Regions from separate parts of the Homo sapiens genome. Here region 2 is reported to be linked to region 1. Evidence: microRNA targets listed by miRTarBase, many of them from high-throughput screens and not tested one by one. Region 1 holds a microRNA gene; the other region holds the end of a gene's coding sequence.

The links. The annotated mature microRNA hsa-miR-3202 reads UGGAAGGGAGAAGAGCUUUAAU and lies in region 1 at 10,403-10,424, opposite strand. An mRNA with a match to its seed (bases 2 to 7 or 8) in the 3' UTR can be bound and repressed. Matches are read on the target gene's strand: a 7mer-m8 pairs with bases 2 to 8, a 7mer-A1 pairs with bases 2 to 7 and ends in A, and an 8mer does both.
Region 2: the mRNA of FAM234A is a reported target of hsa-miR-3202. Seed matches in the 3' UTR shown: 7mer-m8 at 6,143-6,149, 7mer-m8 at 5,661-5,667 and 7mer-m8 at 5,343-5,349.

The regions. Positions count from the first base shown.
Region 1 is chrX:153,974,969-153,991,528 of GRCh38, reverse strand. It overlaps MIR3202-1 (microRNA 3202-1), which reads right to left and starts at 10,432; the gene lies at 10,352-10,432. It overlaps TMEM187 (transmembrane protein 187), which reads right to left. Exons shown (of 2, transcript NM_003492.3): 2 at 8,335-9,679. The coding sequence starts at 9,466. The coding sequence ends at 8,681. MIR3202-2 (microRNA 3202-2) reads left to right here and starts at 10,353; the gene lies at 10,353-10,431. RefSeq lists enhancers at 5,587-5,716, 5,887-6,246, 7,089-7,138, 10,946-11,055 and a cis regulatory region at 5,512-6,237.
Region 2 is chr16:263,730-271,236 of GRCh38, reverse strand. It overlaps FAM234A (family with sequence similarity 234 member A), which reads right to left. Exons shown (of 13, transcript NM_032039.4): 10 at 7,462-7,507; 11 at 7,066-7,221; 12 at 6,521-6,623; 13 at 5,141-6,426. The coding sequence ends at 6,215. RGS11 (regulator of G protein signaling 11) reads left to right here. Exons shown (of 17, transcript NM_183337.3): 12 at 1-35; 13 at 138-253; 14 at 406-493; 15 at 576-714; 16 at 1,652-1,734; 17 at 1,854-2,930. The coding sequence ends at 1,968. Among named protein-coding and RNA genes, the nearest start is that of RGS11, 8.5 kb to the left of the region's middle.

The DNA of each region.
Region 1 (16,560 bases):
CACTAACCATTGCACTCCAGCCTGGGTGACAGAGTGAGTCTCTGAAAAAAAAAAAGAAAGAAAGAAAGAAAAAAAGAAGAAAGAAAGAAAGAAAGAAGAAAAGAAAGGAAAGAAAGAAGAAAGAAAGAAAGAAAAGAAAAGAAGGAAGGAAGCAAAGAAAGAAAGAAGAAAGAAAGAAGAAAAGAAAGGAAAGAAAGAAAAGAAAGAAGGAAAGGAAGGAAGGAAAGAAAAGAAAGAAGGAAAAGAAGGAAGGAAAGAAAGAAGAAAGGAAGGAAAGAAAGAAGAAAGGGAAAGAAAGAAGAGAAAGAAAAAAACAAAGAAAGAAGAAAAGAAGGAAGAAAAGAAAGAAAGAAAAGAAAAGGAAGGAAGCAAAGAAAGAAGAAAGAAAGGAAAGAAAGAAAGAAAGAAAAGAAGGAAGGAAGGAAAGAAAAAGAAGAAAGAAGAAAGAAGAGAAAGAAGAAAGAAAGGAAAGGACAAAAGAAGGAAGGAAAGAAAGAAAGAGAAAAAGAAAGAAAGAAAAAAAAGACTAACTCCAGGTTAGGCGCGGTGGCTCACACCTGTCATCCTGGCACTTTGGGAGGCCGAGGCGGGTGGTTCACGAGGTCAGGAGATCCAGACCATCCTGGCTAACATGGTGAACCCCACCTGTACTAAAAATACAAAAAAAATTAGCTGGGCGTGGTGGTGGGCGCCTGTAGTCCCACTACTCGGGAGGCTGAGGCAGGAGAATGGTGTGAACCCGGGAGGTGGAAGTTGCGGTGAGCCGAGATTGCACCACTGCACTCCAGCCTGGGCGACAGAGCGAGACTCCGTCTAAAAAAAAAAAAAAGACTAACTCCCCACCACTCTCCCCACCCTGGCGACCATCATCCTGTGGTGTGTCTCTGAGTCTGACGACACCAGGTCCCTCCCAAAAGTGGAATCAGGTACTTTCTGTCCTGGCTTCTTTCACTAATTATGATGTCCTCCAGGTTCATCCATGTGGTAGCCTGCGTAAGGATTCCCTTCCTTTTCATGGCTGAATAATATTCCATTGTGTGGATAAAGCAGATTGTGTTTATCTATGTATTCATCCATGGACACTTGGCCAGCTCTCACCTCTTGGGTGCTGTGAATTGCATCCCTTCAAGCTCCTGCTTTCAACTCCTTTGTGCCTATACCCAGCAGTGGAACTGCTGGACCCTATGGGAATTCTATGTTTAATGTTTTGAGGCAACCTCGATTTTAAGCTGAAAAAGGCAAACAAGGACAAAATGAAACTGTCACTCACTCCTGTCAGATCAGCAGATCACCCCGGTGACCACATCAAGTGCTGTTGAGGAGCTCTGCCCCCAATCTGGCAAGGGATTTGGCAAATTCTACTCGAGTTGAAATGCGAAGCTCTCACACATAGGCACCAAGAGGCGTGCACAGGAGCGTGAGACTGGGGACGTGTGCCATCGGTCACGTCCAGCCGGGTGGGGAGGCTCTGCACAATGTGCACGTAGAGAAACACAAGGAGGCTGGGAGCAGGGCCTCAGGCCTGTAATCCCAGCACTGTGGTAGGCCGAGGTGGGTGGGTCAGCTGAGTTCAGGGGTTCGAGACGAGCCTGGCCAACATGCTGAAACCTCATCTCTACTAAGGATACAAAAATTAGCCGGGCATGGTGGTGCACGCCTGTAATCCCAGCTACTCAGGAGGCAGAGGCAGGAGAATCACTTGAACCTGGGAGGAGGAGGTTGCGGTGAGCCGAGATTGTGCCGCTGCACTCCAGCCTGGGTGACAGAGCAAGACTCCATCTCAAAAACAAAACAAAACAAAACAAAACAACAACAACACAACAAAAAACCCACACACAAGGGCGAGGGCAGCCACACACTACTGTGCATGGGCCACATGCAGGAGAGGCATGGGAGGGGCACAGAATCTTCCAAAGAAACAGACCTGAGCTGGCCGAGATGGTGGCGGCACACACAAGCTAGCCCAGGCCCCAGTGGAGGTCAAGTGGGGCCGAGAAGAGGCAAGAGCAAAACCAGAAGTCAGCGGTTCCAAAGAGAAACAGACAGCAAAGATCAAAGTGAAAGGCCGGCAATGGAAGGAAAGGCTAGAAAAACAGAAACAAATCACCTATTGGGTATGAGGCTTACTATTTAATACCTGGGTGATGAAATAATCTGTACACAAAACCCACACAACATGCAATTTGTCTATGGAACCAACCTGCACATGTACCCCCGAAACTAAAATAAAATTTAAAATAATAATAAAATAGGGCAGGCGTGGTGGCTCATGCCTGTCATCCCAGCTACTCAGGAGGCTGAGGCAGGAGAATCGCTTGAACATGGGAGGCGGAGGTTGCAGTGAGCTGAGACTGCGCCATTGCACTCCAGCCTGGGCGACAGAGTGAGACTCAGTCTCAAAAAAAAAAAAAAAGAAAGAAAGAAAGAAAGAAAGAAAGAAAAGAAATAATAATAAAATAAAAACATGAAAGCTTTGAAGGACCTGGCGTGCCACCACAGCAATCAGGCTCCAGTGACCCTAGGAACAAGATGGCCACGCGCCGGGCCAAGGCAGTGCCCTCCAGTCACAGGGTCACTGAACAGAGAAGCAGCCCCCAGGACCAACGCAGAGAGGGTTCCATAAACCCGGGTCCCCAAAGATCCCCTTTGAATGGGAAGAAGCGCTCCCCAATCACATGATGACCCACTGGAGGATACGAACTGGCCAGTGGATATTTACCCGGTATTTCTATTCCCGGAGGCCTTCGGCGTGGGAGGGAAATGCCTCACCCACCTTCGTTCTCCCAGGCTGCAATGAGGCACCTTGCCCAAGCGTGCTGGCATTTCCCTCCCTCACCAAGTGCACTACTTCACTATAGTTACGTAAACCGTCATGTCAGCAATGTGACAGCCGCATTGTTTTCTTTATAAACATAATTTTTAACTATCTAATAATTTTATAATGAAAATGTTATAATAAAAACATCTGAAGCAGCTACAGGCGATGCTGAGATTTAACAAAGTTAGCTGAGGTACAGACAAGTGTTACCTAGACACTCAGAAAACTGCTTTAAGGAAGACCAACCCCGAAAGCTACGAAGAAAAAGACAGACATGCATGACCACATAAATCTTCAGAAGACAAACAATAGGCTGGGTGTAGTGGTTCACACCTGTAATCCCAACACTTTGGGATGCCAAGGTGGGAGGATTGCTTTAGCCCAGGAGTCCGAGGACAAAATGAGGAGGTTGGGTACAGTGGCTTATGCCTGTCATCCCAGCACTTTGAGGGCAAGGCAGGAGTGTGGTCCTGGGCAACACAGAGAGACCCCATCTCTAGAAAAAAAATGTAAGAATTAGGCTGGGCTCTGGCCAGGCGCGGTGGCTCATGCCTATAATCCCAGCACTTTGGGAGGCCGAGGCGGGTGGATCATGAGGTCAGTTCGAGACCAGCCTGGCCAGCATGGTGAAACCCCATCTCTACTAAAAATACAAAAAAATTAGCCGGGCTAATTTTAGCTGTAATCCCAGCTACTTGGGAAGCTGAGGCAGGAGAATTGCTTGAACCTGGGAGGCGGAAGTTGCAGTGAGCCAAGATCGCGCCATTGCACTCCAGCCTGGGCGACAGAGCGAGACTCCGTCTCAAAAAAAAAAAAAAAAAATTTGTAACTTAATAACAAATAATACATTTCATAGTAATTTTAAAAAAAAATTTTCTTTTTTTTTTTTTTTTTTTTAAGAATTAGCCAGGGAGGCTGGGTGCAGTGGCTCACACCTGTAATCCCAGCACTTTAGGAGGCCGAGGTGAGATCACCTGAGGTCGGGAGTTTAAGACCAGCCTGACCAACATGGAGAAACCCCGTATCTGCTACAAATACAGAAATTAGTCAGACATGGTGGCGCATGCCTGTTATCCCAGCTACTCGGGAGGCTGACACAGGAGAATCGCTTGAACCCAGGAGGCAGAGGTTGCAGTGAGCCAAGATTGCGCCATTGCGCTCCAGCCTGGGCAACAAGAGCAAAACTCCATCTCAAAAAAACAAAAACAAAAACAAAACAAAAGAATTAGCCAGGGATGGTGGCCTGCGCCCATAGTCCCAGTTACTTGGGAGGCTGAGGTGGGACGATCTCTTGAGCCTGGGAGTTGAAGGCTGCAGTGAACCATGATTGCGCCACTGCACTCCAGCCTGGGGGACACAGGGAGACCCTGTCTCAAAAATGCACACACACTACTTTTGGCGGGGGGTCGGTGAGAGAGGGGAAGGGGTCTGAGTTAGTCACAATGAAATCTCATGTCACCCTCATCAGATTGGCACACCATGAAAATGCACCCACCCTGACATTTGCTGGTGGGGGGCGGAGAAGCCTCTCACATTGCTGCTAGAGATGTGAATCAAGAACGTCACTGGGAAAAGCACTCCAGGGATTTGAAACTGAAGTTCCCTTCAGCCCTACAATCCCACTCCTGAGACCTAACTGGAGAAGGGCCTGCTCCGGGCCAGTGTGTGCAGTTTCTAGCAGACCTTGGCACGTCACCAAGCCAAAATGGGGCCCAGAAAAGCGAATGCATGATAGTGTGTGCCCTATGCTGTAATTTTTTTGTTTTTTTGAGATGGGGTCTTGCTCTGTCACCCAGGCTGGAGTGCAGTGATGCCATCTTATTACAACTGTGTCACTGCAGCCTGGATCTCCTGGGTTCAAGTGATCCTCCCCACCTCAGCCTCCTGAGTAGCTGAGACTACAAATACACACCATCAAGCCCAGCTAATTTTTTTTATTTTTGGTAGAGATGGGGTCTCCCTACGTTGTCCAGGGTGGTCTTAAACTCCTGAGGTCAAGCAATTCTTCCTTCTCAGCCTCCCAAAGTGCTGGGATTGCAGGCATCAGCCACTGCGCCTGGCCTAAAACTATTTTTGTTGTTGTTTTTGAGATGGAGTCTCACTCTGTTGCCCAGGCTGGGGTGCAATGGCACGATCTCAGCTCACTGCAACCTCCACCTCCCGGATTTAAGCGATTCTCCTGCCTCAGCCTCCCAAGTAGCTGGGATTACAGGCTCCCACCACCATGCCCAGCTAATTTTTGTATTTTTAGTAGAGATGGGGTTTTGTCATGTTCGCCAGGCTGGTCTTGAACTCATGACTTCAGGTGATCCACCCGCCTCAGCCTCCCAAAGTGCTGGGATTACAGGCGTGAGCCACTGCACCGGGCTTAAAACTATTTTTGTGTGTGTGTGTGTTTGTTTGTTTTTGAGACAGAGTTTCGCTCTTGTTGCCCAGGCTGGAGTGCAGTGGCGTGATCTCGGCTCACTGCAACCTCTGCCTCCCAGGTTCAAGCGATTCTCCTGCCTCAGCCTCCCGAGTAGCTGGGATTATAGGCACCCACCACCATGCCTGGTTAATTTTTTGTATTTTTAGTAGAGACAGGGTTTCACTATATTGGCCAGGCTGCTCTCGGACTCCTGACCTCAGATAATCCACCCGCCTTGGCCTCCCAAAGTGCTGGGATTACAGGCGTGAGCCAGAGCGCCAGGCCCTAAAACTATTTTATGTGGGGAGAAAATACCCAGGCCATGGCAGCAGAAAGCAAGGAAGAAGCCACGTGGAAGCCCTCCTGGCGCTTCTTCCAGGGAGGTGAGCAGAGAGCACCTGGGGCCAGGAGGCGGCATGCCTGGGTTTCTGCTCCTCCTCACTGTAACTTTCAGCCAAGTCAAACTGCTAGAGTTTCAGTTTCTTTATCTGTGAAATGCCGGGGCTGGCACAGATGGTTTCTAAGATCCCTCCCAGGCCTGGAACCTCTAAACCGTTAGGTCAAAGGTCGGGGAGAGGCCCCATCTGGCAACCATTGGCTCCCCAGCTGTGCTGGGGACGCAGTGGAGCAGCGAGACTGAGACCAAGACCAGTAACGGCAACGGCGGCCCTGACAGCCAATCCCCCTGGGCGAGGCCGAGCTCCTCCGTGGACTGCAGAGCTGGAGGGAGGCACAGCCGCCAGCCTCCTTCCTCCAGTGGCTCAGGGGTTGGTGGAATCCGCAAACCCCGGGCCAGGGCTGAGGCACTCTGAGGTCCCGGCCCCAGAAGGGGGGTTCGCCTGGGCAGGAAGGGATGCAGGAAGCTGTGTGACTAATGGCAACTGGCCATACTTGGAGAAACACTAATTTCAAAAAGGGCCTGGGGAGTGCAGGTTCCAGGCCGGGGCCTGCCTGGAGCCTTCTTTGCCACCTGCTCTGCCTTGCGCAGGTTCCGGGGCTTCTGGCTCTGCTTGTGTTGGCTCAGGACGTGGTTGTTGGATTTAGCAAATAACAATCAGAACACCCAGTGAAATCTGAATTTCAGGTAAACAATACTTTTTTAGTAGGAGAAATGTCTCATGCAACATTTGAGACACGCTTGTGCAAAACCATTGTTCATCGCCTGGCGTATAATCTGGCAACTCTGGCAGGAGAGGGAGGGAGCGGAGCCAGGCTTCCTGCAGTCCCTGCCCCTCTGGAGGTGTCCCCTCCACATAAGCCTCTCCTTTGGGTGGGGTCCACTCTTCCAGGTGTCCCACAAAACCGCCCTGAATCACCCCAATCTAGGCACACCACCTGTTTCCCGTGGGACCCCGCCTGACCCAGGAGGCTCGCAGGGCTGTTTATTACACAGGTATTGGTAGGAAGAAAAAGTAAAATCGTGATGAGTGCTTGTTGCTGCGAGGTGTGGCATGAAGTCCCAGCAGTCCTCTGTCAATGAGGGAAACAGCTACTCACAGAGAAATCACAAAAGGGGATCCCCCACTGCTGGATGAAGAGCCTGCCCCCACCCTGTCTCTGAGCCCGCATGGAAGCCCGCCTTCTTTTCGCCCTCCCTCCAGCCTCTGTGAAGTAAGGGTGGCCTCTCTGGTGATGTGTGCAGCCTCTTCCCTCTTCTAGGGCACATGGTGCTTTCGAGACGACCTCAAATGGAACCAGGCTGTTTCCCAAGCAGGTGCTGTCCTTGCTCTCCCCTGCCAACCACGTGCCCCACCCCCAGGCCCCAAGCCCTGGGTCGGGTCCTGCCATTTGCCCCAGGTCCTTACCTGGTGGCAATGTGCTCAGCCAGCCAGGACAGAACATCCAGCCCAGGTGCCCAGTTCCAGAAACATCTCAGTCATCACAGTCGTGGGCCGAATGCCAACCTCGAGGGCACTGAGCAGGTGCACATGGGTGGCCCATGCTGAGATGCCATTTGGCAGGGACAGGGCATCCTCTCTCCTCTGCCCTCACCTTTGGAGCTGGTCACTTCTCCATTTAATTTGTGGGCTTAAAGCAGACCCTCCTTAGTACTTAAGGCTCCAGGGACAAGACTATGGAGTCTGGGATGAAGAGCCCCTGAGTTAAATGACATTACCTGTCTTCAGGAGTCCCCTTTACAGGCCGGGCGCGGGAGCTCATGCCTGTAATCCCAGCACTGGGAGGCCGAAGCGGGCGGATCACCTGAGGTCAGGAGTTAGAGACTAGCCTGGCCAACATGATGAAACCCCGTCTCTACTAAAAATACAAAAATTAGCCGGGCGTGGTGGTGGGTGCCTGTAATCCCAGCTACTCAGGCAGCTGAGGCAGGAGAATCGCTTGAACCCGGGAGGCAGAGGTTGCAGTGAGCCAAGATCACACCATTGCACTCCAGCCTGGGCAACAGAGCAAGACTCTGTCTCGAAAAAAGGAAGTCCCCTTTACAGACCAGATGCCTTCAGATGAAAGGAGGTGAGGCAGGCCTCTAAGTAACATAGTGACCGGCAGGAAGGACTGTCCCGGGAGTAGAGAGGGTGGCACGGAGTCCTCAGTGCCTCTCTGGCTGCGGCTAAGAATGACCCAGCATCCTGACCACAAACTAGAGAGTCTGGGCCTTGGGCTCGAGGGCTCAAAAACTGTTGCCTGCATGAGAAGCACGTGCCGCCTCCAGCACAGTGCCTGACGATACTGTCAGCAGACTGGTTCGCAAGGACCTGGGTGACGGGCAGGTGGGGACTGCTCAGACTGTAGCCACTAAGGGCATCTAAGCCACACCCTGGCTCTGAGGGGAGACCCACAAAGCAACTTTCTGTTGAGAGTTCAACTTTTGACATTTGTGTGTTTCCTCATCTGGATGCACACTGCCTGGTTCCACAGACGATCTGAGGTGATGTGGCTCTCACGTGACCTGCCTACAGTTAACAGTCACAGATGTCATGGGGATAATTGAGTGATTTCCCCATCAGTCTGCTGGGCACGTATTTAGTGTGACTCAGTCTCCCTGAATCCAGCCGCCTCTAAGGACACTCACTGGTACCCCACTGACTGGCCTGCCTCACTGCTGCCAGTCCACACCCAGAGCTGACACCCCAAAGATACTCCAGACGATCGCTCTCTGTCCAACCATGAGCATGAGGGGCTTCTTGGTGTCATTTCCACTCCCCTTGCCAATATTTATTTGGAAACATTTCAAACTACAGAAAAGTTATGCAAATTACATCAGGAACACACACATCCCCTGTGCGGAGATCTGTGCTTTATGTCTTTGAAAGTAAGTTGTCGAGATCACAGCACTCCACCCCTCCACACCGAAGCCCGCAGCTTCTCAGGAAAGGGCAGTCTTGTGTGATCAGTGCATATCATCACACACAGGATGTCTGACACTGGCACCACGCTGCCATCTCAGAGTCCATTTCAATGCTGGGGGTCATCGGTTTTCAGCAGGTTCTTCCCTGGGTTCAACGCGTCTTCCCGCCAGAGGGATGGAATCTTGGGTGAGTGTTGAAATGCGTCAGAAACAAAAACGCAAAGTGGAACTGGAGCACGTCACAGACCTTGGACCAGAAGTGGCCTGTGAGGCACTGGAAGAGACGCCACCGTGCGAGCTGATGGTCACACAGCTTGAGGACCACAAAGCCCAGGCAAGAGAGCACCCCCAAAGCTAAGTAGGTAGCCGAGGTGGTGCTGCCATAGTGCCTGTGGGTGCGCAGCGCCTGCCCCACAGCGGCCACCACGTGAGCACCCAGTGCGACCTCGAAGCCCTGGGGATGCAGCAGAGCGAGGCCATAACTGGCCAGGGAGACGCACTCAAGAGAGAGGAACAGCCAGGGCCGCCAGCCGCGGTCTAGGTAGAGGCACCAGGCCACGGGCCATGCAAAGATGGGCAGTGTGAGCCACTGGTCCAGCACCGCGGCACGGCGCCACTGCGTCCACAGGCGCAGCCACTGCACGGGGCCATAGAGCAGGGCCATGGCTGCGAACACGTCCTTCAGGTAGCGGGGACCCAGCCCCATCGCGCCGCCCCTGTGCAGCCACGACAGCCCCAGCAGCGTGTAGGCCATGTTCACGAGTGAGTTGAACGGCATGGCCAGGAAGGCAGGGAGGCCGGCCACGGGCGCCTCGGCGTAGTGCTCATAGCCCACTTGCACGGAAACACTGTCGAAAATGCCCGTGAACACAGCCACGGCACAGAGGCCACCGGCCACGGCCACGTGCACGAAGGCCTGCCCCCACTCTGGATTCATCTGGAACCGGCGGCGTGACCTGGGGCAGGGAGCTTCAGAGAGCAGCCTTCAATACGCAGCCTCTGCAGAACACTCTGGGCCTCCCGGCTGAGCCAGCAGAAAGAAGCCCCGTGATTTCGTGATTTCCGAGGCAGATGCTGCGACCTTGCCCCGAAGGAAGGCAGGAGTCCTGCTGATTGGCTGGCGCCAGCGGAGGAACGTTCTGCCTTTTTCCTTTGTGGTTACAAAAGGAGTGTGGTTAGAAAACAAACCGTCCCCAGCACCGCCTCCATGTTCCTGACCCCCGGCCTCAGGAGCTACCAACCATCTTCACTGGAGAAGCAAATCAGAGTGAAACCGCTGCACACTGACTCTCTCAAGCCTCTAGAATCCTCTATCACCCCTTTCTCCTGGCACCTAGGAAAATCCTGCCCATCGTCCTAGTTTCCTTAAAGCCACTGCATCTACAGACAAGACCTGTCTAGCTCTGTCATTACAACTCAGAATGCGCCTTCCCATGTCAGTGTGTTATAAAAGTGGACGTCTCCAGCCCCAAAGCCCTTTTCACCAAATACCCAGCTGAACTAGAGACCATTAGATGGAGTCCGAGCTCTGGCCTCTGACACAAGGTGGGGGATGGAGGAGGAGGAGGATTCACCGTCTGCCACTCAAGCACCAGGCCGGGAGGCAAGGGGGTGACCCGCAGGCTTCCCAGGCCAGCTTCCCTGGCTCACTCGCCTGCCCTCTCCTGAAGTGCCAAGCCCCAAATCACCTTCTTTCCTCAGGCCACCATAAAGCCTTCTGTCTCCTTCAGTCACAGAACCAGAGAGACAATTTAATTACCACTGACTGTCAACTGCTTTGGGGCCACTGGTGCTGTAAGTGAGCCCTAGTAGCTGAGAAATACATTAATATGGAAGGGAGAAGAGCTTTAATGCTCTGAAAATGACTCCAATCATTAAAGCTCTTCTCCCTTCCATATTAATAAATTTCGCACTCAAGAGGGTGGGCGGGTAGGCGGGCTCAGGGAGAGAGAAGGGTGGGCTCCAGTTCCTGGTCAGCTGATGCCAGACTGTTCAAACCTTGGCTCTCCCACTTACTAACCATGTGATCTTGCACCTTAACTGTCTTGGGCCTCGGTTTGTGCACCTTTTTTTTTTTTTTTGAGACGGAGTCTCACTCTGTTGCCCAGGCTAGAGTGCAGTGGCACAATCTTGGCTCACTGCAACCTCCGCCTCCCAGGTTCAGGTGATTCTCCTGCCTCAGCCTCCCTAGTAGCGGTGATTAGAGGCGTGTACCACCATGCCCGGCTAACTTTTCTATTTTTAGTAGAGTTGGGGTTTCACCACGTTGGCCAGGCTGGTCTTGAACTCCTGACCTCAAGTGATCCACCCGCCTCAGCCTCCCAAAGTGCTGGGATTCACAGGTATGAGCCACTGTGCCCAGCCCGGTTAGCTCACCTTTGACCTAATCGCTTAGAAGTTCCAGGCCTGGGAGGGATCTTAGAAACCATCTGTGCCAGCCCCGGCATTTCACAGATAAAGAAACTGAAACTCTAGCAGTTTGACTTGGCTGAAAGTTACAGTGAGGAGGAGCAGAAACCCAGGCATGCCGCCTCCTGGCCCCAGGTGCTCTCTGCTCACCTCCCTGGAAGAAGCGCCAGGAGGGCTTCCACGTGGCTTCTTCCTTGCTTTCTGCTGCCATGGCCTGGGTATTTTTATTTAGACACGGGGGTCTTGCTCTGTTGCCCAGGCTGGGGTGCAGTGGCACAATCACAGCTCACTGCAGCCTCCACCTCCTGGGCCCAAGCTATCCTCCTGCCTCAGCCTCCCAAGTAGTTGGGACCAGGGATATACCACCACCTTGCCCTGCTAATTTTTTTTTTTTTTTTTGAGACGGAGTCTTGCTCTGTTGCCCAGGCTGGAGTGCAGTGGTGCGATCTTGGCTCACTGCAAGCTCCATCTCCCGGGTTCACGCCATTCTCCTACCTCAGCCTCCCTACCACAGCGCCCGGCCTGCCCTGCTAATTTTTGTTAAAAAAATTTTGGGCCAGGCATGGTGGCTCATGCCTGTAATCCCAGCACTTTGGGAGGCCAAGGCGGGTGGATCACGAGGTCAGGAGATCGAGAGCATCCTGGCTAACACGGTGAAACCCCGTCTCTACTAAAACAATACAAAAAATAGCCAGGCGTGGTGGTGGGCGCCTGTTGTCCCAGCTACTCGGGAGGCTGAGGCAGGAGAATGGCGTGAACCCTGGAGGCGGAGCTTGCAGTGAGCTGAGATCGCGCCACTGCACTCCAACCTGGGCGACAGAGCGCGACTCCATCTAAAAAAAAAAAAAAAAAAAAATTGTAGAGACAGGGTCTCACCATGTTGCCCAGCCTGGTCTCGAACTCTTGGCCTCAAGTGATCCTCCTGCCTTGGCCTCCCAAAGTCCTGAGATTACAGGAGTGAGCCACTGCACCCAGCTAAACCCCTCTTAAGTTGAAAGTCCAGTTCCTATATTTTCGACTTATGATGGGTTTATCTGGACATTACCCTGTTATACATCAAAAAGCATATGTAGCTGGGCATGGTGGCTCACATCTGTAATCCCAGCAATTTGGAAGGCCAAGGTGAGAGGACTGCTTGAGTCCAGGAGTTTGAGACCAGCCTGGGCAACAAAGTGAGACCCTGTCTCTACACAAAATACATAAAATTAAATTTAAAAAATAAAATAAAAATTAGCCAGGCATGGTGGTGCACCTATAGTCCCAGCTCCTCAGGAGGCTGAGGCAGGAAGATCACTTGAGCCCAGGAGATGGAGGCTGCAGTGAGCTATGGGCCACAGAGCAAGACCCTATCTCTAAAAAAAAAAAAGCTAGGCGCAGTGGCTCACACCTATAATCCTAGCACTTTGGGAGGCCGAGGCAGGTGGATCATCTGAGGTCAGGAGTTTGAGACCAGCCTAGCCAATGTGGTGAAACCCCGTCTCTACCAAAAATACAAAAAAATTAGGCCGGGCACGGTGGCTCACGCCTATAATCCCAACACTTTGGGAGGCAGAGGCGGGTGGATCACTTGAGGTCAGGAGTTCCAGACCAGTCTGGCCAACATGGTGAAACCCTGTCTCTACAAAAATACAAAAAAATTAACCAGGCGTGGTGGCGCACGCCTGTAATCCCAGCTACTTGGGAGGCTGAGACGGGAGAATTGCTTGAACCCAGGAGGCAGAGGTTGCAGTGAGCCAAGATCGTGCCATTGCACTCCAGCCTGGGCGGCAGAGTGAGACTTCATCTCAGAAAAACAAAACAAAACAAAACAAAACAAAACAAAACAAAACAAAACAAAAAATTAGCCAGGTGTGGTGGCACATGCCTATAATCCCAGCTACTCGGGAGGCTGAGGCAGGAGAATCGCTTGAGCCCGGGAGGCGGAGGTTGCAGTGAGCCGAGATCACGCCACTGCACTCCAGCCTGGGCAACAAGAGCGAAACTCCCTCTCCCCCCCAAAAAAAAAAAAAAAAAAAAAAAAAGTGGCCAGGCGTGGTGGCTCACGTCTGTAATCCCAGCACTCTGGGTGGCTGAGGTGGGTGGATCAGTTGAGGTCAAGAGTTCAAGACCACCCTGGCCAATATGGTGAAACCCCATCTCTACTAAAATACAAAAATTAGCCAGGCGTGATGGCTCATGCCTGTAGTTCCAGCTACTTGGGAGGCTGAGGCAGGAGAATCGCTCAAACCTGGGAGGCGGAGGTTGCAGTGAGCCAAGATCGTGCCACTGCACTCCAGCCTGGGCGACAGAATGAGACTCCGTCTCAAAAAAAAAAAAAGTATCTGTATATGCAGACCACTTAGCACTATTTTATTATTACTTCATTTTATTTTGTTTTTTTGAGACAGACTCTTGCTCTGTCGCCCAGGCTGGAGTGCAGTGGCGTGGTCTCGGCTCAGTACAACCTCTCCCTCCGGGGTTTGAGTGATTCTCCTGCCTCAGCCTCCTGAGTAGCTGGGATTACAACTAAAATTAGCCCGGCTAATTTTTGTATTTTTAGTAGAGACGGGGTTTCACCATCTTGGTCAGGCTGGTCTTCAACTCCTGACCTCGTGATCTACCTGCTTCGGCCTCCCAAAGTGCTGGGATTACAGGCATGAGCCACCGTGCCTGGCCTATTTTATTTTTTTATTGAGACGGAATCTTGCACTGTCTGCACTGTTGTCCAGGCTGGAGTGGTGTGATCTTGCCTCACTGCAACCTCTGCCTCCCGTTTTCAAGAGATTCTCCTGCCTCAGCCTCCTGAGTAGCTGGGATTACAGGCGCCCGCCACCATGCACAGCTAATTTTTTGTATTTTTTTTAGTAGAGACAGGGTTTCACCATGTTGGCCAGGCTGGTCTCCAACTCCTGACCTCAAGTGATCCGCCCGCCTCGGCCTCCCAAAGTGCTGGGATGACAGGCGTGAGCCACCACACCTGGCCTATTTTATTTATTTTTTGGGACAGAGTCTCGCTCTGTGGGGCAGGCTGGGGTACAGTGGCAGGATCTCGGCTCACTGCAACCTCCGCCTCCCGGGTTCAAGCGATTCTCCTGCCTCAGCCTCCCGAGTAGCTGGAAGTACAGGCGGGCCATCACGCCCGGCTAATTTTTGTATTTTAGTAGAGATGGGATTTTGCCATATCGGCTGGGGTGGTATTGAACTCCTGACCTCAACTGATCTGTCCCCCTCAGCCTCCCAAAGTGCCGGGATTACAGGCGTGAACCACTGTGCCCAGCCTATTTTATTATTTTTAATAGCATATAGAGTGACATTTTGATACATGTATATAATGTATAATGATCAAACAAGGTAATTAGCATATCCATCACCTGGAACATTTATCATTTCTTTGTGTTGGGAACATTCCAAATCCTTTCTTATAGTCTTTTGAAAATACACAAGAAATTGTAGTTAACAGTGCTCACCCTACAGTGCAGAACAGCAGGATCCATTCATGCTATGAAGCTGGCATTTTGTATTTGTTATCCGACTCCTCCGAATCTTTCCCTACTCTCTAATCTTTCCAGCTTCTAATACCCACTATGCTTCTATTTCCATGAGCTTGATTTTTTAAATATTTTACATAAGAATTAACACATACAATATTTATCTTTCTGTTCCTGGCTTATTTCACTTAACATAACGTCCTCTAGGCTCATCCATGTTGCCACAAATAACAAGATTTATCTTATTAGTTTGTTTATTTCTTTGAGACAGGGTCTCGTTCTGTCTCCCAGGCTGAGTGCAGTGGTGTGATTGCAGCTCACTGCAGCCTCCACCTCCCAGGCTCAAGTGGTCCTCTCACTTCAGCCTCCCAGGTAAATGGGACCACAGGCATGTTACCATGCCTGGCAAATTTTTAAATTTTTTTTGAAAGACAGGGTCTTGCTATGTTGCCCAGACTGGTCTCAAACTCCTAGGCTCAAGCGACCCTCTCACCTTGGCCTCCCAAAGTGCTGGGATTACAGGCGTGAGTTACTGCACCCAGCCAATAGTTTTTTATTTTTTTTATTTTTTATAGTTGGTTTTGGTTTTTTTTGAGACAGGGTCTCGCTCTGTCACCCAGGCTGGAGTGCAGTGGCACAATCTCGGCTCACCACAGCCTGCGTCTCCCAGGTTCAAGCAATTCTCCTGCCTCAGCCTCCCAAGTAGCTGGGATTATAGGCGCCTGCCACCACACCTGGCTAATTCTTGTATTTTTGGTAGAGATGGGGTTTCGCCATGTTGGCCAGGCTGGTCTCGAACTCCTGATCTCAGGTGATCTGGCCGTCTTGGCCTCCCAAAGTACTGGGATTACAGGCTTGAAACACCGCGCCCGCCAACAGTTTATTTTTAAATGGCTCAATAATATTCCATCATGTATCTATACCACATTTTCTTTACATATCAATCCACTGGTGGACACTTAGATTGCTTCCATATCTTAGCTATTATAAGTAGTACAAAGGCACGAAGAACCTACATTGGGGAAAGGATGGTCTCTTCAATAAATGGCACTGGGAAAATTGGATAAGTATGTGAAGAAGAATGAAAACTAGGCCCCTATCTCTCACCACACACAGTAATCAACTCAACATGGATTAAAGACTTAAAAGTAAGACCTGAAACTATAAAGCTACTAGAAGAGGCCAGCGCGGTGGCTCACACCTGTAATCCCAGCACACTGGGAGGTTGAGGCGGGCAGATCACTTAAGGTCAGGAGTTCTAGACCAGCCTGGCCAACACAGTGCAACCCCGTCTCTACTAAAAATACAAAAAGTAGCCGGGCGTGGTGGCGCACATCTGTAATCCCAGTTACTCAGGGGGCTGGGGCAGGAGAAATGCTTGAACCCAAGAGGAGGAGGTTGCAGTGAGCCAAGATCACACCACTGCACTCCAGCCTGGGGCGACAGAGCAAGACTCTGTCTTTAAAAAAAAAAAAAAAAAAAAAAAAAAAAAAAGGCTGGGTGTGGTGGCTCACACCTGTAATCCCAGCACACTGGGAGGCTGAGGCGGGCAGATCACCTGAGGTCAGGAGTTCCAGCCCAGCCTGTCCAACATGGTGAAACCCCATCTCTACTAAAAGTATAAAAATTAGCCAGGGTGGTGGCATGCGCCTGTAATCCCAGCTACTTGTGAGGGTGTGGCAGGAGAATCGCTTGATCCCAGGAGGCTAAGGTTGCAGTGAGCCAAGATTGTGCCACTGCACTCCAGCCTGGGTTTCAGAGTGAGACTGTGTCTCAAAAAATAAATAAATAAATAAATACAAATAATAAAATAAATAAAATAAAACTACTAGAAGAAAATGGGGAAATGCTCCAGGAAAGATTTTATGGCTAAGACCCCAAAATCACAGGCAACAAAAACAAAAACAGACAAATGGGAGTATATTAAAGTAAAAAGCTTTTGCACAGCACAGAAGCAATCAACAATGAAGAGACAATATAGGAGAAAATATTTGCAAATGATTCATGTGACAAGCACTGTTTATTTTTGAGGTGCAATGTCCATCTGCCCTACTGCAATTTAGGCCCCAAATGGGTGGGACAGGGTCTGATTCCTTGCTCTTCCTCAGATGCCCAGTGAAGCCCTGCTCAATTTCAATTCAATTATATTAAAGAA
Region 2 (7,507 bases), not on the chromosome of region 1:
GACAATGACGCCTACTGGGTCATGAATGCCCCCACGTGAGCCCAGGCGGGGCAGCGGGACTGCGGGTGTGCTCCCAGCCTGGGGGGACGCAGGAGGGTCAGTCCCCACCCTCCCCAACAGCCCTGCCCTCTCCCCAGGGTGGCTGCCCCCACGAAGCTCCGTGTGGAGAGATGGGGCTTCAGCTTCCGGGAGCTCCTGGAGGACCCCGTGGGGCGGGCCCACTTCATGGACTTTCTGGGAAAGGAGTTCAGTGGTGAGAACCCCCCAGCCCCTGCTCCAGTCCCAGCGGGGAGGCTGCTGCCTGGGACCCCTCCCGCCTCGGTTTCCACCAGCTCCCTGGGAACCCCCCACCGGCCCTGGCTGCCACTCTCGATGGGATCCTTGACTGGGTGCCCGGCCCCCCAGGAGAAAACCTCAGCTTCTGGGAGGCATGTGAGGAGCTTCGATATGGAGCGCAGGCCCAGGTCCCCACCCTGGTGGATGCCGTGTACGAGTAAGTGCTGCGTGGTGGGCACCGGTTGGCCAACGGGCAGGTGCACCCAGCCGAGACTACCCAGTGCTGTCCCCACCCCTAGGCAGTTCCTGGCCCCCGGAGCTGCCCACTGGGTCAACATCGACAGCCGGACCATGGAGCAGACCCTGGAGGGGCTGCGCCAGCCCCACCGCTATGTCCTGGATGACGCCCAGCTGCACATATACATGCTCATGAAGAAGGTGGGTGCTGGGCCAGCCTGCAGGGGCAGGAGGGGTCATCCCAGACGGGCCTCCATGTCCCCACCCTCAAGGGCTCTGTCCGCACAGGCACTGCCCACGTTGACTCTGCCCCTGGGGAGCACCTTCCCCACCTGGTTGGGGCCGCCCTGGCCGCTCTCCTGTCAGTGTTCCGTCCTGAGCCCACTCCGGGTTCAGACAGGCTGAAGGACTGGCCCAGATCACATGCTTAATAAGGGTCAAGCTTCGATCTAAAAAGTTTTGTTTTCTTTTGTTTTGAGGCGAGTCTCGCTCTGTCGCCCAGGCTGGAGTGCAGTGGCGGGATCTCGGCTCAGTGCAAGCTCCACCTCCCGGGTTCACGCCATCCTCCTGCCTCAGCCTCCTGAGTAGCTGGGACTACAGGCGCCCGCCACCACGCCCGGCTAATTTTTTGTATTTTTAGTAGAGACGGGGTTTCACCGTGTTACCCAGGACGGTCTCGATCTCCCAACCTCATGATCCACCCGCATCAGCCTCCCAAAGTGCTGGGATTACAGGCGTGAGCCACTCTGCCCGGCCGGGATCACAGGCGTGAGCCACCATGCGTGGCCTACCTTGTTTTTTTATTTGACTCCACAACCCTGCCCTCACTCTGTGGGGCACACGGAGCCATTCCTGGTTCCCGCTAATGGCTGAGGAGGTGCCGCGGTTTATTCCTCTACACGTGGCCACCAGGGCTCTTGCCATTTTTTGCTGCGACATGGCCCAGGCAGACGGGAGCCCAGGTCTCCCTGCGTCTGCCTTGGTCTGGGCAGGTCCGAGGCGGCTGCCTCCAGCACCCTGTCCGCCGGAGACTCTGTGGCTGGAGGAGGCTCCAGCAATGTTTGGCTGCTCCTTCGGGTGGAGCTGGCTGAGAGGTGAGGAGGCAGAAGGGTCAGGGGCTGGACGCTGTCTCTTGTAGGACTCCTACCCAAGGTTCCTGAAGTCTGACATGTACAAGGCCCTCCTGGCAGAGGCTGGGATCCCGCTGGAGATGAAGAGACGGTGAGCCCAGGCAGTGCCCTGTGGCCGGCGGCTGTGGCCTGGGGGCTGCTGGGGCCCTGCAGTGAGGTGGGCAGGACACCAGCTGGCCAGCCTGTTCTCAGCCGCCTTCTCGCCCACAGCGTGTTCCCGTTTACGTGGAGGCCACGGCACTCGAGCCCCAGCCCTGCACTCCTTCCCACCCCTGTGGAGCCCACAGCGGCTTGTGGCCCTGGGGGTGGAGATGGGGTGGCCTAGTGGACCTGGCCCATCTGCCACTCTAGTCCCTGCAGCTCAACGTCCTGCGTGAATGCAGCAGCCACCCCCGTCTTGGCCCAGGTCCTGGGGGCTGCTGAACCCAGCACCAGTGTCCCCTTGTGCCCAGGGGGCCCAGTCTTCTGTGGGGTGCACAGCCTCCCTCCCTCCAGCAAGCCCTCCCTGCCCAGAAGGAATGGGTCCAGGTGTGGATTCCCAGGGAGGGGGTTCATTGGCTCAGCTTGGGTCAGGGCAGAGCCTGTTACCTGAAGAGAGGTGAGACCAAGGCCACAGGGAGCTCCACCTTCTCTGGTCTTCAGTCCAGCACTGGGTGCCCATCCCCATCTCTAAAACCAGTAAATCAGCCAGCGAATACCCGGAAGCAAGATGCACAGGCGGGCGGCTTCCCACACACCCGTCACAAGACGCGGACATGCAGGTCTCGGCGCGAGCTCTGCCCCGTCCAAGAGCCTCTCCGCTGTCGCCCAGTGTGAGCCTGGAAGAGGACCCAAGAGAGTGCCGTGCTGAGGCTGCCTCGAGGTCACTGCCTTCCGGAGCTGCGCCTATTCCTCCCTCGCCAAACGCGTTCCAGAATTTGTCCACAGGTGCGCCGGCACCTGCTTTCCCACCTCGAGGCCGCGGCCTCCCCCCCGATTTATAGACAACTCTGACATTGTCACCCCACTGACGAGGCCCGATTCCATAGGGTGGATCCTTGCCAGGCGTCCCTGATCCTCCCTGCCCAAGTCTTCCTTCGTGAGCTGGCCTTGCTCCCCATCCCCCAAGTGCCTCACCAGTCCCCCAGACTGGGTGAAGGTACAGCTGGCTCCTTTCGGGGGTGCAGCTTCAACTCTCTCGGCGGTAGGGCGGTGCCATCCCCACCCATAGGGCTGGCTCACATCCAGTCACTCCCAACAGCGTCCAGCACACAAATAAAAGACCCTTGGGCCCTGGCTCTGAGCCCATCCTGCTGTGGGTGCAGCTTATGGTGTGACGGTGCATGTGACACATGCATGGGTGTGTGTGCGTATGAGGCATGTGTAGCACTGAGGCACACGTGTGGTGTGTATGTATAGCGTGTGTGATTGTGTGTAGTGCACGTGTGCAGGTGTACTGAGGCATGCATATGTGGTGTGTGTGTGCACGTGTCGTGTGTATGAGGCATGTGTAGCACTGAGGCACAAGTGTGTGTACGCATAGCATGTGTGATTGTGTGTAGCACCCGTGTGCAGGTGTACTGTGAGGCATGCATATGTGGTGTGTGTGCGTGTGTATGAGGCATGTGTAGCACTGAGGCACACGTGTGGTGTGTACGCATAGCATGTGTGATTGTGTGTAGTGCACGTGTGCAGGTGTACTGTGAGGCATGCATGTGTGGTATGTGCATGTGTCGTGTAGGATGCATGTGTAGCACTGAGGCACACGTGTGGTGTGTACGCATAGCATGTGTGATTGTGTGTAGTGCACGTGTGGTGTACTGTGAGGCATGTGTGGTGTGTGCACGTGTTGTGTGTATGAGGCATGTGTAGCACTGAGGCACACGTGTGGTGTGTACGCATAGCACGTGTGATTGTGTGTAGTGCACGTGTGCAGGTGTACTGTGAGGCATGCATATGTGTGTGCACGTGTCGTATGAGGCATGTGTAGCACTGAGGCACACGTGTGGTGTGTACGCATAGCACGTGTGATTGTGTGTAGTGCACGTGTGCAGGTGTACTGTGAGGCATGCATGTGTGGTGTGTGTGCACGTGTCGTGTAGGATGCATGTGTGGTGCACATTGCATGTATGAGGTGTGCACATGTATAGTACATATGTGTGAATGTATTGTGCATGTGATGTGTGCAGTGTGTGGTGAGGGAGGGGGCAGGTCCCAGGTGTGTGGAGTCGATGGTGGAGGAGGGACTTGACCCTCTCAGACCCAGGCAGCAGACTTGGGGCATCTGGTCTTTGGGAGGAGACAGCCAGGGCACTGTGCTCTGGTGGGCTAGGGTGAGCAGGGTAGTGTGTGGGGACGCCTGCCCTCCAGAGGGGGAACAGTGAGGAAACTGTTAAGGAAGCCTCTGGGGAGGGGCAGTTGTCCCCAGCCTGCCCTAAGGCCACAGAGCTGCAGAGGGCATGGCATGGCATGGCCCAGACTCTCTAGGGCCCGCAGTGACCACAGGGCAAGAATCCCTTCTTCACAGTCTGGGGGTGCAGGCTGTTCCTGCAGGGAGGGAAACTTCTGCCCACCAGCAATGGCACCCCTTGGCCCAGCCCCTCAACTCCGGCTTCTCAGGGTGGGGCTCATGGCCCTGCCCACCCCTCCATGGCCAGGGGCACAGCTGCTCCTCTGACCTGCAGGGTGACCCCTCCCTTTGGGGACCCCCTGCCCTCCCTCCCGTGCTGTCAGGGGGCAGCTCTTGCAACCCCAGTGAACCTTCCCTTCTCCCTCCAGCCCCACCCTGCCCGCCTGGCGGTTCTCACTTATAGGACGCGTCCGCAGAGCCCTATATGGCCCTTTCATACCCAAGGCCTTCTGGGCTGAGTTACTTTTCTCAGGGACAAGAGAACCGCTTCCTGGCACGAGGGCACCCACCTGTTCAACCTCATCCCCCACGTCCCCCTACCACGCCTTGGAAGGAGCAATGGGAACAAGGTTACACCTGTGTGGCTCTGAAGCGGGGCTTTTCACACTTGCATACATGGCCGTGGGACAGTCCTGCAGGGCTCTCTAAAGCACCTGCCTGCCCCTCACTGCCGCCACACCCAAAGCTGCATCTCCGGGAAGCCCCTGCCTGGGCTCCTCTTGCCTGCAGGGTCACCAGAGCTCACCCCGGCCCTACCATCATCCCTTCACGCTGGACTCCAGCCAGCCCTCAGACGTCACGCGGTGCCGAGGCCACCGTCTGTTCCAGGTGGGAGCACACCCGCTTGCATGGGGCCAGGGTGCCCAGCTTGGTGGGCAGGGGTCCTCAAACCGGAGACCCCCAGAGGATGTCAAGATTGCTGGGTGCCCAGTTTCTGACTGAGCAGGTCTGGGTGGGGGTGCTCGCCTCCTCGGCAGCCCTCCCCACCCTGACCCAGGCTGGCCAGCAAATTCCTGGTCACTCCTCCAGGAACAAATCCATTTGACTACTTAGGGAGCAGACAGACAGGCAGACGCACACACGCTAGGCTCACGCCTGACCACCGGGGTTTTTCAGGCAGTGCAAAAATGTTTATTCTGCTTTCTTCCTTGGTGGGTGGGTCATCAGGCTGCTTTGGCTACGAAGCTCAGGCTCTGTGACCTGGGCGGCCCGAGCAGTACAGAGCACCATGGCTGCCCTTGGGCCTCAGGAGCAGCAAGGCACAGAGGTGAGTCCTGCATCGGGTGGCACGGCGTGGGCGTGTGAGCACCGGAAGGGGAGAGGCAGGCGCTTGCCATGCCTGGGGCACGGGGCCTCTTCAGGGACAGAGCAGCTCCAGTGTCTACTGAGAGGGCACAGACTGACCCAAACACGCATTCCACAGCCAGTTCCTTGGGATATTCACAGCACATGCAGCCAGTAGACAGCTGCAACACCACTAAGGACACCTGTGAGCGGCCACGGGCTCAGCTCCAGAGCAGGCCCCACCCATCCTGCTGGGGGAGACCCTTGCTCCAGGCTTCCTCACAGGACCTGGTCAAAGGAACCAAGTCACACCCCCCATGCTAGAGGATCCCCCTGTAGCTCCGGGAAGGGCTGCGAAGCTGGAGCTGTCTCAGGTTCCCGTTGAGGCCCAGTACCCTGAGTTCCATGACTCCTTGGGGGACAGAGCACAGGAGGGAAAAGGGGAATGGACTTCTACAGGATGGGGTGGGGGACGGCCTGTCCCGGGGACACCCTGGTTCTTTCTACGCGATGGCCGCTCTGGCCTGGGGAGAAGCTGGCAAGGAGAGGGCACCGGGTAAGGATGGGGTGCTGCATGACCCAGCTCTGCCCAAGGTGGCCAGGGAGACCACTATGAAGGCTGCCTGGTGTGAGCGGGACCCTGGTGGGGTGCAGAGTGAGGCCCTGTGTGGGGACTCAGGGAGGATGCTGGGCGGGAGAGAGGCCCAGGGTGTCCCCTCACCCATGCAGGTCCCTGGGTGTGATCATGGAGGACTGGTAAGGCTGCTGCTGCCCAGTGGCGACCATCACCAGGGTCAGGAGTGGGGGAGTCAGTGCAGAGACCCAGGGAAGGGCCCACTTCCCAGGACGTTTAGTGTCAGCAGGCGGAGTCTCTCCACAGGCTCTGGCTGGCGTGCCTCTACGCCTCACTCTGGTACCGCAGCCGGGAGAACCGGTCCCTGATGGCTTGGTCACTGTCTGGCCCACCCTCACCCAGGCGGACCACCCTGCTGCTTGGGACAAGGTCCCGCACCTTGTGCTTGATCACAGAGACCAGGCCGGGTGCCTCTGAGTCTGCCGGGCCTGTCAGAAGGATGTAGGCGGCGTGGCGGCTTGGCTCAAACAGGACGGCTGCAGGGTGGGGGACACAGCTGTCAGGGCGGCTCAGGACCAGCCAGGGCAGACCCCGCGGAACACCCGGGTCCCTGGCCGAGGCCACACTCACCGTCAAAGGCGACAATGTGGGTAGAGACATTGGCCAGCTCCAGCAGCACGCGCGGCAGGGTGGGGTGGAACATGTACAGGCTGTGCCGGGCCTCCCCGGTCTCCTGGAGCGAGAACCAGCAATGGGCCCCACGCCCTTCACTGAGCACTCCCACAGGACACTGCTGTCAGAGTGACCGTGCCTGGAGCTCTATGTCTGCTAGGGGCCCTATCTGGGTCCCCCAAATGCCAGCCCCCAGTTCTGTGGCCACCTCCCAGGTCCTCCCACCCCACCTGGTCCTGACACTGGTCCTTGCCGGCAGCCACTCCCTTCAGGGCATGGCTGTGTGCGCCCCTATCCACCGAAGGCCATCAGCCCCTTCTCGCTGGACCCCTCTAAGGTCACTTTGCCTCAGCTTGCACCACCTCATCCTGACTGTCACTGGACTTCAACTTATGTGAGGTTGCCCAGGCACCGATGAGCTTCTGGGCACTCCACGGTGGAGCTCCAGCCTGGGTCTCTGGCCCCGGCTCCCAGCATGGCTGCTCCGAGGGTGGCTCCCGTACCGTCTCGCTGGTGCTCCCCAGCTCGTGGAGGCCCCAGAAGAAGAAGGCTGAGCGGTGGTCTGCGGTCGGCAGGCTGGCGGACAGTGGACCCCCAGGGAGGCTCGGGAGGGCTAGGCTACACAGGACGGCTCCAGTGCCAAGGTCCAGAAACAGGATCTGGGGAGGGAGGGGACACTGTGGGGGCCAACGTGGGGGCTACCGGGAAAAGCTCGAGGCTTGCACAGGCACACGTGCCCTCAGCCATGCCAGCCCTGGAGGCAGATGCTCTGAGGGAGGCAGAACCTTCTCAGCAGCTCTGACGGCAGCAGCCTCCTGGGCCGCAGCCCCGTCTGCTTTCAGACCAGTCTATCCTCAGCTAAGAACAAAGGTGCCACCTCCGAAGGAAGAACAACGAACCTGTCTGTCGGTGCCAGTTCCGTTTTCAACGGCTACAGCCAAGGTG